3 separate regions of the Homo sapiens genome follow, and all the other regions are linked to region 3. The links come from fine-mapping of genetic effects on gene expression. A gene starts in region 3. Each other region holds a variant in brackets. All regions are shown on one strand. Distances are between the middles of the regions. Region 1 overlaps ADD3 (adducin 3). Region 2 has its middle 17 kb from the start of XPNPEP1. Region 3 holds the start of ADD3 (adducin 3).

Region 1 (5,225 bases), 110 kb after region 3:
TTCTTCAGCTTTCAATTCCTTTTTTAAAAAATTCCAGCTAGAAGGCAACTATACTCTTCTTACCTTTACCTGGAAGTCCAGTTTTCAGACTTATTCTCTAAACCTAGTATGCTAGATCACAACCAAATACTGATTTAAACCTTATACCCAAGGGAGAGGCTCCAATTCCCCCACCTTTCTTCTCCCCTTACTATCTATGTTGTTCCAAGTTCCTTTGGTTCAGACCAACTGTAGAATCTATCCAGGAAGAAATCCTTCTGGCAAAATTGTCCCTCTCCATGATAATTATGTCTGAGCATCAGTGGCTTTAAAAAGCATTTGAGGCAAGGAAGATAGAGGAGGTCAGGGAAGTTTCCTCCCTGGTCTTTATTTTTAAAATATATTCTTTCCATTCACCATCATATTTTTATTTTGCCACACTTGGAAAAAGATGCTATTTGGAAACAAAAGAGGATTAAAATATTGTACAATGGAAATGGTACAGATGCAGTCCATCAAGAATCTTTCTTCCTTTCCACCTTCCATCTTTATTTTAATTCCTTCCTAGGAAGAGATTTTGTTCTCTTTCCTTTGCCCATTTTGCCTTAACTTCCAAGTTATAAATTAAGGTTATAATTATTACCACATTGGCTTGAATAATATTAGCATTTATTTTTCATGAACATAGCTGACCCTAAATAACCTTAGAGCCCCAAAATAACACTTTTAGGTAAGTCCAGTAAATAAGAAACTAAAGTCAGAATTTTTTAGCAAGTACTTGAGGGAAACTTTAGGAAAGTTTCATGTTGTAGACCTTTAATTTTTGCTTTGTTGGTTTTTTTTTTCCTGATCTCTTACAATTATTCATTGTAAATATATTTGTAGTCATGTTTCCACTGCAAAATATGAACCACTTCATAGTAATTCCCTGTTGTTTTTTTTTCCAGGTAAGAATAAGTAAGGAGCAAGACCACATTATAATAATTCCCAGAGGCCTATCTTTTTCTGAAGCTACAGCCTCCAATTTGGTATAATTTTCCATTCCTGTGTTGCTTTTTCTGAGCTTTCTTTGGCTTTTCTGACAGTTCTTAGCTTTTAGCACAGGACAGAATAAGAAGGTATGGATGGAAAAACATTTACTAGTGAACAGTGAAGGGAATTTGAACTATGTTGTTTTAGGGAAAAGCTTTAGAGAATAGCGTAATTGAAGAGACTAATAAATGAGTTGGTCTTATCAGTTAACTTGTCTATGTTTTGAAGGGAATCGTGATTTTTTTTTTTTTACCACCCTATACACTCAGAAATTTGTGTAAAAAAATTGTGTAAAAAAAACACACACGGCCAGGTGCAGTGGCTCACGCCTGTAATCCAAGCACTTTGGGAGGCTGAGGCAAGTGGATCACGAGGTCAGGAGTTCAAGACCAGCCTGACCAACATGGTGAAACCCCATCTCTACTAAAGATAACAAAAAATTAGCTGGGCGTGGTGGCACACACCTGTAATCCCGGCTACTCGGGAGGCTGAGGCAGGAGAATCGCTTGAATCCATAAGGTAGAGGTTGCAGTGAGCCAAGATCGCACCATTGCACTCCAGCCTGGGCTACAGGGCGAGACTCTGTCTTCAATACACACACACACACACACACACACACACACACACACACACACACACACACACACAATGTTCATAGCTAGATTTAAACAAAGTTCAGCTGGTATGAGTATAGGATCTGACCTTAGTATTTTATCTTTTCCATGACTACTCCTAGCCACTGTCATCAGCTTACAGAGTGACAGGAGCTACCTTGGTTCTGGGTGCTTGCTGCAATGTTAGCAAATAGAAGTTTTCTAGCCAATTCTATACATGCCAGACTTGTTCAGACCTCCGATGAAGAGCTTAAGTTTCTCCTTTTCTTGGAAACTGTACTTCTTGCCAAGTACCAAGTTTTGTTGCACCTGTTTTATAAATAAAGTTTTATGGGAACAAAGCTATACCTGTTAACTTACAGATTGTTTATGGCTGCTTTTGTACTGCAGCTGCAGATTTGAGTAATTGCAGCAGAGGCCCACAAAGTCCAAAATATTTGCTATCTGACCTTTTACAAAAAGGTTTGCTACCCCCTGGTTTAGCTTGTGAAACACAAACTTTGATACGTATATACCAGTTAAATATGTCCTTCTGATTTTTTCCAGGTGAAAGTCAATATAATAGGAGAAGTGGTTGACCAGGGAAGTACCAATTTGAAAATTGACCATACAGGATTCAGTCCCCATGCTGCAATCTATTCAACACGTCCTGATGTTAAGTGTGTGATACACATCCATACCCTTGCAACAGCAGCTGTAAGTCAATGAAAG[T/G]CCAAAACTGACAGGACGCTGGAAGATGTATTATTTTTGTGGCTTTCTCAACAGGATGCTTTACTATCTGCTTTTCAAAATCATATTTGATACAATAATCTGCATACCCAGAAAGCAAAAGGCCTTTGGGACCAAATGCTACCATTCTAGGAAACAACTGGAGAAATAACATTTGGATTCTAAAACTAACCAGTTTGAAAATTGGGTCATTGAGTTTTTTGGAGCAAAGCTTCTTTCATAATATTTGACACAGCATATAAGTTGAGTTGTATTCCCTAAGTCCTTTTTGTGTGTGTGTGGAAGAAACAAAATGGGAAGTGAATAAAGTGGGAAGTGGGCTGCAATGGTGAAACACAGTGAATAGGCCAGTGTTTTCCTGAGCTGACCAAACAATCAGGTTCCTATGAAAATGTATTTAGTAACCAAATGTGTTATCTTGGTATGGGCCAAACCAAATAGGTATCCTCCATGAAATGTGGGATCCTTCCAATTTCTCAAGAGTCTCTTCTTCTGGGAGATGTTGCCTATTATGACTACCAAGGGTCACTTGAAGAACAGGAGGAGAGAATTCAACTGCAGAAGGTTCTGGGACCAAGTTGTAAGGTATGTAGTAGAGTTTGTCTAAGGAGCTATTTTTGTTGCTGCTGCTGTTGATGAAAACAGTGTGAGCTATGCCAGTTATTTCAAGTGATTGCTGTGGGCATTCTATTTTAGGTGCTGGTACTCAGGAATCATGGTGTGGTTGCACTTGGAGAAACATTAGAGGAGGCTTTTCATTATATTTTTAATGTGCAACTAGCCTGTGAGATTCAGGTAGGAAACATTATTCCCCTTTTTTAATTGCTTTGTTATTTGCTCGTTTAGTTGGATTTTGTGTACTTATTTGCAAATACATATTAGTTAGTGGCTTTTTGTCTTTTAAGAGAAGTTCTGCTCTACTTATGTAGGCAGGGTTTTCAACTCAGTTATCTCTTGAATTGAAAATAGGAGTAAAGGAAATTAAAATTTTCTCACACACAATCTAAGGGCCTCATAAACATCATTTTCCCTACAATCCTGCTTTTTAAGTTAGTACAATTGCATATTTCTGTTTTCACCCTGTAGTGGTGGTACTAATTAAGGAAGAAAAACAGCTGCAAATCAAGAATCAAATGTGTTGTGGTCACTTTTGTAAAAAGTTTGACTAGGTCCAGAAGTTATATGAAATTGCAGTTTTCAACAATTCCACAGCCTCATTATGATGAGAGGTTGGATATTTATTAATCATTTTTTTCATCAGAGATGTTGAATGTATTTAAAGGCCCTAATTTTCTTTTTCTTTTTCTTTTTTTTTTAATTATACTTTAAGTTTTAGGGTACATGTGCACATTGTGCAGGTTAGTTACATATGTATACATGTGCCATGCTGGTGCGCTGCACCCACCAACTCGTCATCTAGCATTAGGTATATCTCCCAATGCTATCCCTCCCCCCTCCCCCCACCCCACCACAGTCCCCAGAGTGTGATATTCCCCTTCCTGTGTCCATGTGATCTCATTGTTCAATTCCCACCTATGAGTGAGAATATGCGGTGTTTGGTTTTTTGTTCTTGTGATAGTTTACTGAGAATGATGATTTCCAATTTCATCCATGTCCCTACAAAGGACATGAACTCATCATTTTTTATGGCTGCATAGTATTCTATGGTGTATATGTGCCACATTTTCTTAATCCAGTCTATCATTGTTGGACATTTGGTTGGTTCCAAGTCTTTGCTATTGTGAATAATGCCGCAATAAACATACGTGTGCATGTGTCTTTATAGCAGCATGATTTATAGTCCTTTGGGTATATACCCAGTAATGGAATGGCTGGGTCAAATGGTATTTCTAGTTCAAGATCCCTGAGGAATCGCCACACTGACTTCCACAATGGTTGAACTAGAGAGCCCGCATCGCCAAGTCAATCCTAAGCCAAAAGAACAAAGCTGGAGGCATCACACTACCTGACTTCAAACTATACTACAAGGCTACAGTAACCAAAACAGCATGGTACTGGTATCAAAACAGAGATATAGATAAATGGAACAGAACGGAGCCCTCAGAAATAACGCCACATACCTACGACTAGCTGATCTTTGACAAACCTGAGAAAAACAAGCAATGGGGAAAGGATTCCCTATTTAATAAATGGTGCTGGGAAAACTGGCTAGCCATATGTAGAAAGCTGAAACTGGATCCCTTCCTTACACCTTATACAAAAATCAATTCAAGATGGATTAAAGATTTAAACGTTAGACCTAAAACCATAAAAACCTTAGAAGAAAACCTAGGCATTACCATTCAGGACATAGGCATGGGCAAGGACTTCATGTCCAAAACACCAAAAGCAATGGCAACAAAAGACAAAATTGACAAATGGGATCTAATTAAACTAAAGGCCCTAATTTTCTCTTTAAATCAAGCAGATTTGGCCAGGCACGGTAGCTCATGCCTGTAATCCCAGCACTTTGGGAGGCTGAGCTGGGTAGATCACCTGAGGTCAGGAGTTCGAGACCAGCCTGACCAACATGGAGAAACCCCGTCTGTACTAAAAATACAAAATTAACAGGGCGTGGTGTCATGTGCCTGTAATCCCAGCTACTTGGGAGGCTGAGGCGGGAGAATCGCTTGAACCCGGGAGGCGAAGTTTGCAGTGAGCCGATATCGTGCCATTGCACTCCAGCCTGGGCAACAAGAGTGAAACTCAGTCCTCAATAAATAAATAAATAAATAAAGCAAATTCTCATGAAGCAAATGGTAATAATCTTAATTTATTGGAAGGGCCACAAGAAAGGGGGAAAAGAACAACTAAAAAAAAACTTTTTCTACCAACATTAACTTGTCCTAACAATCAACTTATTTTTGCTTT
Region 2 (5,225 bases), 68 kb before region 3:
ATGCTCGGTGGCACACAAGGGAGTCAACGATGACTGAGCCCTGCCCCGACCTGGCAGCAGAACACTCAGTGGAGGTCAAACTTGGGGGCTGTTTTGTTCCAGCTTAGCCAAAGTTGACCTACCATTCAGCTGAATTGTCCTCTTCCATGCAACTCACATGCCAGACCTTGTGTTGCAGTAAAAAAGGAGAAATTTCCCCCCTCATCAAATAAAAATCACTTGCAAGCAGGTCTTTTATGTGGCAAATATCTAGGTCATGTCATGTAGCCTTAGAAAGAGGGTAAGATCAACGCTTTAGAGTTTGAAGACCTAAAAATGATGGTGAGCAGGACCGAGACACCAATTCTAGATAACTTCTGAATGTATTCCCATATTTAGCAAATTTTTTTTTAGTGCTCCAATATGCCAGGCACCTAAGTGGCAGCAATAGAGCAAAAAACAAAATCGACCAAAATCTTGGCCTATGTGGAGCTTACATTCTAGTGGGAAAAGACAAGCAATAAAATAAAAATATAGTATGTAAGGCAGTGATAAGTGTTAAAGAGAAATAAAAAGGAAGGGAAGGGAAATTGGGTTGCTGGAAGTGGAGTGGGGTGTAATCTCTCTAGGAGTGTCAGGAAAGGCCTCTTTGGAAGCCTAACATTTAAAGGACGTAAAGGGGTGGGCCCTCACAGTAATGTCTTGATGCCTCAGCAGCACCAAAGTTGACAAAGTCACTGAACAGAAGAAAGAGCTGCCCTGGGTGGGATGTGCCAGTGCCCCGGAGCAGTGCCTGGCGGAGGGGACCCAGCCCAGCCTAGGCAGGTCATTTCCACAGCTAGGTTTGCAGCATCTCTCCCCTTTCCATGCTGCCTCCCACACCCTAGGATTATAGCAATACAGTTGGACATTATAAATCCAAGGAGGTCCAGGATAGCTAATGGAAGGAGCCATGGTTGGTGGGTCATGCATGCATTATCACCAGCTGCCAAGGAGCCAGGTGAGGGCAGGGGCTTTTATTATAAGTGTAATGGAATTATCAGACAGGTCCATACCACATACCGGACATGCTAGAGAGCCCTAGGGAAGGAAGCTACCAGGTATGCTGAAAATGAAAAGGAGATGTTGCAGGGCAGTAGGAGGTGTTCAGGGAAGACCATGGAGGACAATAGTTATAGCAGACTTGAAACAAAAAGGCATGGAGATATTCTGGGCTTTTAGGGAACGTTTGACCAAAATGAGGGAAAATTGAAGCTGAGTTGAGAAAGCAGTGTTAAGCTGGGTGTGATGGCTCACACCTGTAATCCCAGTGCTTTGGGAAGCCCACATGAAAGAACTGCTTGAGGCCAAGAGTTCAAGACCAGCCTGGGCAACATAGCGAGCCCACATATCTATTTTTTTTAAAATTAGCCAGGCATGGTGGCACATGCCTGTAGTCCGAACTACTCAGGAGGCTGAAGTGGGAGGATCACTTGAGCCCAGGAGTTTGAGGCTGCAGTGAGCTGTGATTGTGCCATTGCACTCCAGCCTGGGCAGCAGAGTGAGGCCATGTCTCTAAAAAAGGAAAAGAAAAAGGAAAGCAATATTGTAAATGCCCTAAGGGGCTACAGTTTTCTTAATTGGAGCTCCTAGGTTGTGGAGTTAGAGGAGGTGAGCAGGGGTGTACTGGTACAGAACTGGAAGAAAAGCAGGACAAATTAGGGTTCTGGCTCTTGGGATACCCAGTTCTGCCACATGTGAGCTGCAGGGCCTCAGCAGATCACTGTCCACACTGGGCCGTCTTCCCCTTCTCTGAAACAGGGCAGATTGGATGTACCCCAAGCCTTCCTCCTGCTATGACATTTGGAGACTATGGTAACAACTAAGGAATGATCCTCTCCTGGGCCTGCACACCCAACAGAAATATGTACATATGTTCACCAAAAGGCACGTACAATTGCAGCACTGTTCATTGTAGTCAAAAATTGGAAACTACTCAAATGTCTAAAAACAGTGAAATGGATGAATAAATTCTGGTCTATCCATACAGTTGAAAAGTGTAAAACTGTAGGAATGAAAAAGCTATGGCTGTATGCACAGTGTGAATGAATCACACAAATAGGACTCAGACATCTAAGAGTATATGCTGCGTCTGTAGGCCTTTATAAAGTTCAAAAACAGGAAACACTAAATTGTTACATTAGAAGTCAGATTAATACTTACCCTGGCTAGGGAGCTTGTGACTAAAGGAGGCCTGAGTGACACCCCCTGGCTTCTGATTATGCTCTTTCTTAATCTGGGTCTGCTTACATAGATGTGTGGACTTTATGAAAATTCCTGGAGCTATACTTTTATCATCTGTGCACCTTGTAAGTATATTATTCTACAATTAAAAATATACTTAAAAACACTTTTAGAAGAAAATATAGGTGACAATCTTTAAGATCTTGAGGTAGGGAAAAATTTTTTATATAAGACAAAAAGAACACAAATCATTAGAGAAAAAACCAATGGATTCAATTATATTTAAAAATTTTTTAATTCAGAAGGAAGCAGATACAATAACAGCAGTGCACCTGCAAACAGCTTCAGTGTGATAGGGGAATAACATAATGAATAGATTATTCATTTCATTTTGCTGTGAACTATGCCAAGCCCCTTGCAACTGTTATCCCATTGAACCATCATAACTATTCTATGAGGCCAGTGCTATTATCATCCCCATTTTGTAGATGGGTAAACTGAGGTTTGGAGGAGTTAAATTACTTGCCTATGAGCACTTGGTTGGTGAGTAGAAGTGCCAGTAATTGAATTCAAGTGGGTCTGACTTCTGAGCTTTTCATCATTTCTCAGTGACAAAGCAGGTTCAAAGGCCAGCTCGAGTGGGGAGTAAGGTCACAGGTTGCAGGTTCAGGTC[C/A]CCAACACAGTCCAGTCCCAGCAGTGTTTTCAAATAGAGCAGATAATTAGTTATGACTCCAAGCTCCCACCCCCCAAGATCAGAAGCCCAAGGTTGAATCAGAACCCTGTCCTCTTGATGGGGTGGAGTAAAAGTGAAAGGTGGGATTACGGGAATCCCATCAATCTCAATTTCAATTGAGAATTGAGAGGAGGAGGTTGGGCTCTTCTGTTGCATTCTCTGTGCCTGTTATAATCAGTGATGATGCCTTTCTCAGTTCCTCAAAAGGAATGTTCTACTCCAGCTAGTCCTCTCCCACTGAGTGTTGGCCCGGTATGCCAGGTTCATTCCAATCTCTGAACACCGTTTGTCCCACCTGGAAGACCCTTTCCCTTTCCCTCCTCTTCTATCTAATTCTGCTATACTTCCAGGCCCAGGTGGAGCCACACCTATACTCTGAAGTTGGCCTCTATTACTGCAAGCCAATACTGTCCAATAGGACTTTCTCTAGTGAGAAGGTTAATTTTGCATTTTCCCGTATAGTGGCCACTAGGTACATGTGGCTGTTGAGCACCTACTATGCCTAGTATGACTGAGAAACTACATTTTTTATTTCATTTAATTTTCTTTAATTTACATTTAAATAGGTGCTTGTGGCTAGTGGCTACCATATTGAACACACGACTTTGACTTTACCTTGTACCGACTCCCTGTATTGCTTTGATTATATTCCTTCAGGAACTGAATACGAAGTTAATAGATATTCTGCTTATTTTACTTACATAAGTCTTATCTTTAGAGCTGAACCATTAGCCTAAGAAAAGAGAAATAGGAAAAAATCTACTTGTGTGGCCATACTATTGGCACACAGTGCTGAGCATAGAGGATGTCAGTCTCAGTGAATTCCTGCTGAAATCAGTTGCTGGCTCAAAGTAGGCAGAGGTGGAATACAAGGCCTGGAGCACTTGGAGGCCTGAGTGGATGGTGCTCTGCTTCTGGGTGTGGGGTAGAAGGTGGATTCCCAGGAAGAAGTTAACAGCTCCCCTGTTACAGAAGTCAGCACCTAGAGCCTAGATGAAGACAGACTTTTGTCCTGGCCAAGTACATACTTAAACTCCTCTAAGGCCTTGCTGCCATTTCCTGGAATCCTCTTGCACCTCCCAAATGGCTCACGGTTCCAGAGCGCATGTCTGAGGCAGAGTACAGAGAAATGATTACAAAGCAGCAGTGCAGCCGTAGCAGAAGCACCTGGGGTGTTAATTAGAGGCATTAACTGTAGCATTCCTGAGAACCCATGAACTCTCTCCTCCCTTTGCCAAGCCGCAGAAACACCTTCTTTGGGATTTTCTCTCTGAAGTAGTAAGGAACAGCAGAGTGGGAAAGAGAAGCAGCTGAGCAGAAAAACCTTTGTCATGCCCCGACCCTGCAGCTTGTCCTTAGGCCCTGCCCTCCAGTCTTGGGCATTTCCCATTGGGACAGGCAATGAGGGACAGGGTCATCAGGGACACTCAGGAACAGATTGAAATGAAAGGGGCAGGCCTTTAATTATGCCTGTAATCCCAGCACTTTGGGAGGCTGAGGCAGGCAGATCATCTGAGGTCAGGAGATCAAGACCAGCCTGACCAACATGGTGAAACCCTGTCTCTACTAAAGATACAAAAATTAGCCAGGAATGGCAACGTGCACCTGTAGTTCCAGCTACTTGGGAGGCTGAGGCAGGAGAATTGCTTGAATCAGGGAGGCGGAGGCTGCAGTGAGCTGAGATCGCACCACTGCACTCCAGCCTGGGCAACAGAGCAAGATTCTGTCAAAAGAAAGAGAGAGAGAGAGAGAGAGAGAGGAAGAAAGAAATAGAGAGAGAGAAAGGAAGAAGGAAGGAAGGAAGGAAGGAAGGAAGGAAGGAAGGAAGGAAGGAAAGGGAAGGAAGGAAGGAAAGGGAAGGAAGGAAGGAAAGGGAAGGAAGGAAGAAAGAAGCAGTGGGGCCCTTGAGACAAGAAGACAAAAGAAGAGATAAAGGGGCTAAAGCCTATTAAAGAATGTTTGTGGCAGGGGTGAGTGAGAAAATAAAAAGAATGTTCATCAGTTCCTCCCAAGGCCCATGCCCACCCAGGTCAATTAGGGATTTCAAAACAGATGAAGGTCAAGTTGCAAGAGAAAGATAGAAGTGAAGATAGAAGGTCTGGGGAGGCTGGACATTGTACCAGGCAATCTGCACACTGGGCACTCCGGAAGGTCTTTGTATGGCGTTTGAAGGGGCCCTCGTACCTTCCTTCAGGGTGAGGTGGCAAATAGAGTGCAATGGAGATACCTGCTACCACCCAGGATGCCCAAACGGCCACTGGAAGATGTCCTTGGGCTGGCCCAGGATGCC
Region 3 (5,225 bases):
TACTCATTTACTCAGTCCACAAAACTCCCTGATTCCATCCTCTCTGCCTCTTATGAAGCAATACTAGAGAGGAAAAACAAAACCCATTCCTTTAAGAAAGATTCCGCCTCCTCTCATAAGCAAGCGCCTAATGGTAATTGTAGAGTTTACTAAGTCAAACACTTACTACTCAGCATTGAGAGAAGCTGCTGCTGCTAATGCTGCTGCTGCTGCTGCCGCCGCCGCCGCTGCTGCTGCTGCTGTTGGTCTGAGGCTGCAGTAGGTTTCTGTGCAGCATTGCAGAATCCACACCTAGAGAACAGAAGACACAGACACGTACGTCTACTACCCTTGTTAGAAGGAAGCTTTGGATCTTCGGTGGGTAAGGAGATCTATCTAGCTATTTTGTCCAGAAACTGTGAGAAAAGGAATGATCATGGAAAAGACTGTTCATCAGACATGCTTAAAATGGATTATGTTAATTTGTCTTCCTTTGGTGGTGGTGGGGGTGTCCAGATTTGCGACTAGCAAAATATAGTGAGGACTATATTCTGATAGGTGCCCTTAGGATACTTTTTTTGCTATTCATAAAAAGGCTAACCTTGATGCATGCAAAGCTTTTCATTTTTTTGCTTTTTAAATGCAAGAAAATATCCAGCCACTCCCAATATCTCTCTCAAATACTGCAGATATTTTTAAATACCAAATAAAATGTCAGGCTGAGCATTTTCTAAACAATTTTCTTCCTCAAACTAGGCAGCCTTCCCCACGATTCGTTAAGAGTATTTAAAAATAATAAGGCATGGTTGGATTTTTTGAGCAAATGGGAGATGGTGGTAGACTAAAATTTCTACAGCCTTAGTCCAGTGGAGAGAGAAAACGATAAATGCATCACAGTTTGTGTCAAGACAAGATTCATTTTCCACACTTCATATGTGGGAAGAGGAAACTACATTTTAATTAGCACATTTTTAGGGAGGAGGGGGGGGATGAAGATGAGGCGGATGGCGTGAGGTATTTGAGGGGGACGAGTCTGCAGATGAGGAAAGGAAATGAAGTGGATTGTCGCCAGTGCCTTGGAAACGAAGGGGGATAAGGGTGGGGAACGAAGTTTGTTGTGTGTGTTAGGGTGGGGTTGGCCCAAGGGACCATGAATCATTAGAATGGCGCTCGGAGGGGTGTGCTTGCAAGTGTACTGGTGCAGGAGGGACGTGGAAGTCGTGGGTGGCAGAGAAAAGTGTGCACCGCTGGGAGGTCTATTTCAAGAATAGGTTGGGATGAGAAACATGTCTGGGCGAGGGGGGTGGGAGGCCCGGTGTCACCTGTGGATGGATCCACAGCCCTGCAATTGCGTGTTGCAAAGTTTGCCCGGCCCCGCATTCATTTTGAAGGTTCTTGGCGATGCCTCGACTTTTCGCCTCAAAGAAGTGAGCTCTCATAAGGTTCAGAGGCCGGGAGCCAAAGCGGGAGTGAAGACTCTCGAGGGGTCCAAATGAAGCAGAAGCGAGAGCCCCTGTCCTCCCCCTATGTGGAGGTGAAGCAGGGGTTGTGGGGACTAGGCGCCCGCGAAGGCAGCTGTGCTGAGAGCAAAGTCCAGGCCCCACGGGGGGCGTGCGGAGGTTGAACCTTTGCAGTGGCCTCCTACAGCCCCAGCAGCCAGCGTGGGCGGCCGAGGCTGACTCAAAGCGGCGGCTCAGCCTCGGGAGTAGGAGTAGGGGGCTCGCTCATTTAGGGCGGGAGACATTTCCGAGGCGCCCCTCCTCCCCTTCGCGGTCGGGTTTCTATCGGGGTCGTTTCCCCCTCTGGCCCTCCGGGGACGCCGCGGATTCGAGCTGCACAGTCAGAAGAGGACGTTGAAAAGGCGCCAGGCAGCCGCCCCGAACCAGGCCCTCCCGGCTGCCGGGCCTGCAGGCCCCCACCGCTGCGGCTTCACGGACTTAGAGCTTGAGGGCGCGGAGGGGGCTGCGGGGGCGGGACCAGGACTCCCGAGGGGCGCTCGGGGCGGGGCCAGAGAGAGCTCGGGGCTGCCAGAGGCGAGGTCTTGAGGAGGCGGGGCCGGGAGGCTTCGGAGCCCAAGAGGCGGGGCCAGAGGCGTAGGGGGCTGCGAGGGGCGGACCTTGGGGGCGTGACCGGGGGGGGCGCTTGGGGACCTAGGGGCGGGGCGTTAGGGGGCGGGACCAAGGGACGCTCGAGGGGCGCTCGGCTAGTCCCGCCAGAGCGCGAGCCGCCAGCCCGTAACGGTCGCCAGTGTGAGGGGCGGGAGGGAAAGAAGAGGGGTTTAAATTAGATTTTTTAAAACACAGAGCAAGCGCCAGAGGCGTCGGCATCCCAGGTGTCGCCGCTTCCTGCTGCACAGGGCTCGGCGTACAGGTCCCTCCCTCCTCAAGCCCCCTCCCCTTCTCCCGCCCTACCCTCTGGGGCTCTGCGGCGCTTAAGAGGCGGCCGCAGCGGCGGATCCGGCGGCTGCTGCAGCCCGGGCGGCTGCCGAGAAGGAGGGAGGGGAAACACAAAGCCGGCTACGCGCTGCGAGGTAATCTTGCGGGGAGAGGACGCGCCGTCGTCCCGCCTCTCTTCCGGGCCGGGACGCGGGCACCCGCGCGGGGGCTAGCACTGGGGACGCTACTGGGGGTCGCGCGGGGGTAGGGAGCGGCGGCTGGCGGGGCCAAGGGGACTTCTCATTGGCTGTCCCTGCGGCCTCAGGTGAACCCTTTTCCGGGGCGGGAGTGGGGACCACGGCCAGGCCAGAGGGGAGCGTACCTGCGGGGGAGGGTCCGGGGGTGGCGGTGCACGGCCTGCGGCGCCGCCGGGTGGGCCCGACGCTTCGCGCGTCTGCTGGTTTTCCCTAGGAAGGCGGGGAGTACCAAAATCAGTTACTGGCTGAAGCTTAGGTGACCCCGGGGACCTTAAGCCCTGAAGGTGCGCTCCAGGGGAGTGAGAGGTTCCTGCGCTTAGAAAAGGTGGAGGAAAGGGAGCGAATGTTGGTTTTAGTTGTTTTTCTCCTCATTTAAAAAAAATTTTTTTTGTTACAAGTTGAAAGTGTTCAGTCACCTTTCTCCTATAATCCGCTTCCCCACCCCCCAACACAGACACACACAAACACACCGCCCCTACAAACGTATACATGTTAGGTTGAGCTTCCTGCTAGGGGTGACAAGCGAAGTTGGCAGCAGGTCTGGTGTGCTGGTGTTTGGGGCACGTCCAGCCTCTTTGGAGGTAGGCTATTATAGCTTAGGCAAGACCACAGACAGGTAGCATAATCTGGGCCTCTTTTAAAATGGCAAGAACGGCTTCAGGTGAACTTTTTTGTTGCAGAGATTTAATTGCAAGTAGGTGCCGGTTGAAAATGGGAGCGCAAGGAAAACCACTAATTTCCTTGGCACATGTGCTGTTGCAATTAACCTGGTAGAGTGTTAAGGAATTTAACTTAGCCAAGAGGCTTTGAGGGAGGATTATATGCAAGTTTGGGGAAGGAATTGATAAGATTCTGGGGTATGGGACTAGCTACATACACGTGCGTGCAAGTTTACGTTAAATTATGTAGCATTTTAGATTTAGCAGTATTAAATGGTTGCTTTTCTTGGAATGGCTTCTGACTACATAGTGCAGGGTACGTTCCTAATTTTGGCTTTAGAAGACTCCTAGTGAGAGTGTTTTTAAAGATTGAAAAAATAAGAGTACAGTGCAATTTGTCGTTTTCAAGTTAAATACTTGACTGTTAAAAATATTTGTGTAATTAAGTTATGGGACCAACCCATTTATAGGGTTAAGTTACTTAACCCTATAAATAACTGGAACATTATAAATGGAGCATTTGTAGAAAGTTTTTATATCGAAGTCTCCATTATATTGTACTTGCATTATAACTTATTTTCCTTTGCTTAAATGGAGCAGATTAACTTTATGGAAGGAGGACCAGGATAAAATAAAGGCAGCTACATTTAACTCTTCATCTTTCTGAAGAGTTCAGTCTGTGATAACACTTAAGGTGCCCAGAAGTGCTGGCATGTTGGTAATAGTTTTTAAAGAAGAAACGGGTGTATCTATTTTGAATGTTAAACATAATTTGAAGGAGTTCTTGAGATAGTTGGTTATGAGACATTCAATGTATTGCTACATTTTACATATATGATATCAGGAAATGTTTGGTGAACATTTGACATAGTTGATCATATGACACTTGGGAAATATTTTGCATGATAGAAGGATAGTATTTTCGTAATGTAAGTTTCAAGCATTGACTGAAAGGGAGAAAATTACACACTTTGCTGTCTCACCCCTTTCTTCAATATTATGCTGGCATGAATGTGAATTCTGCCTAATTATGTTTAAAGTGTAGATCTGGCCTTTGTAAAACCAGAATGTCTTTTGAGACCAAGAGAACATAACATCAGCAACAGCCCAACTCCTACACACAATCCTAAAACCTAGATACAGGGTGGTGCCCAACTTCTGAGGTTTTGAGGCTTCCTGAAGTAGGCCTATCATGTCTGAGTGCTTTTGTCACATGTAAGCCTACAGGTGGTTAGCTGGTTAATCTCTCCCATTTCAAAGCAGTTGGTTAGCAGTACTGGGTGGCATGTATGCATGTCATCAGAGTATAAGAAGTGTTTGAGGGAAGAAATCACATAAAAGCATAGAAACCTGGCTCTGAACAAACTGTGTAGCGTGTTGGGGAACAGTCACATCAGAACTTTAGCTTAACCGAGTTGTTATATGTAAAGTGCTTAGAATGGGGTTTGTATTCAGTGCTTTTTGTGTTTATCATTATCAGTATGTAAAGTGACATATCTTTTTGAAGGCTGTTAGGTCATGCTACCCAGCATGTGAAGACTCAGCAAATATTTGTAATAGCCAATATTTATTTGCCTAACCTCTGTGCCAGGCACTAAGAGTTTTATATGATTTAATTTACTTAGTCCTTCCAACAACCCAGTGGCTAAACAGAGGCATGGAGAGGTTAAGTATCTTCCCAAGGTGACACAGGTTGGTTCTGAAGCCAGAGTCTGGCCCAAGAGTGAGCCCATGTAACCACTGCCCCTTGTTGCTATTGAGCTCATGGTAATTACTGCAAACCAGTGAGAGGTCTTCATAGTATTCCCACGACTATCAGGTGCACATGTCTTGTTTAACCACATCCTCTGGTATTAATACCACCAAGTTATGCTTAAATCTAAGGAGTGGTGGTTAATCCGCATTAAATACAGTCACCTTTTGACATTGAAAGGGTATTCTCTTTTGATACACAA

What was found. PIP is the estimated chance that this variant, and not a neighbour inherited with it, causes the effect.
Region 1: its variant is the best candidate, but not a certain one, in a credible set for the expression of ADD3 in whole blood (TOPMed, PIP 0.90).
Region 2: its variant is the best candidate, but not a certain one, in a credible set for the expression of ADD3 in whole blood (TOPMed, PIP 0.65).

The regions. Positions count from the first base shown.
Region 1 is chr10:110,116,416-110,121,640 of GRCh38, forward strand. ADD3 (adducin 3) reads left to right here. Exons shown (of 15, transcript NM_016824.5): 5 at 927-1,007; 6 at 2,172-2,321; 7 at 2,796-2,939; 8 at 3,051-3,149. Among named protein-coding and RNA genes, the nearest start is that of MXI1, 89 kb to the right of the region's middle. The variant T/G (reference allele first, on the strand shown) is at 2,337.
Region 2 is chr10:109,937,626-109,942,850 of GRCh38, forward strand. No RefSeq gene overlaps it. Among named protein-coding and RNA genes, the nearest start is that of XPNPEP1, 17 kb to the left of the region's middle. The variant C/A (reference allele first, on the strand shown) is at 2,876.
Region 3 is chr10:110,005,791-110,011,015 of GRCh38, forward strand. ADD3 (adducin 3) reads left to right here and starts at 2,194. Exons shown (of 15, transcript NM_016824.5): 1 at 2,194-2,509. It overlaps ADD3-AS1 (ADD3 antisense RNA 1), which reads right to left and starts at 2,591. Exons shown (of 5, transcript NR_038943.1): 1 at 2,391-2,591; 2 at 167-291. RefSeq lists enhancers at 839-1,394, 1,395-1,948 and silencers at 1,777-2,206, 2,517-2,926.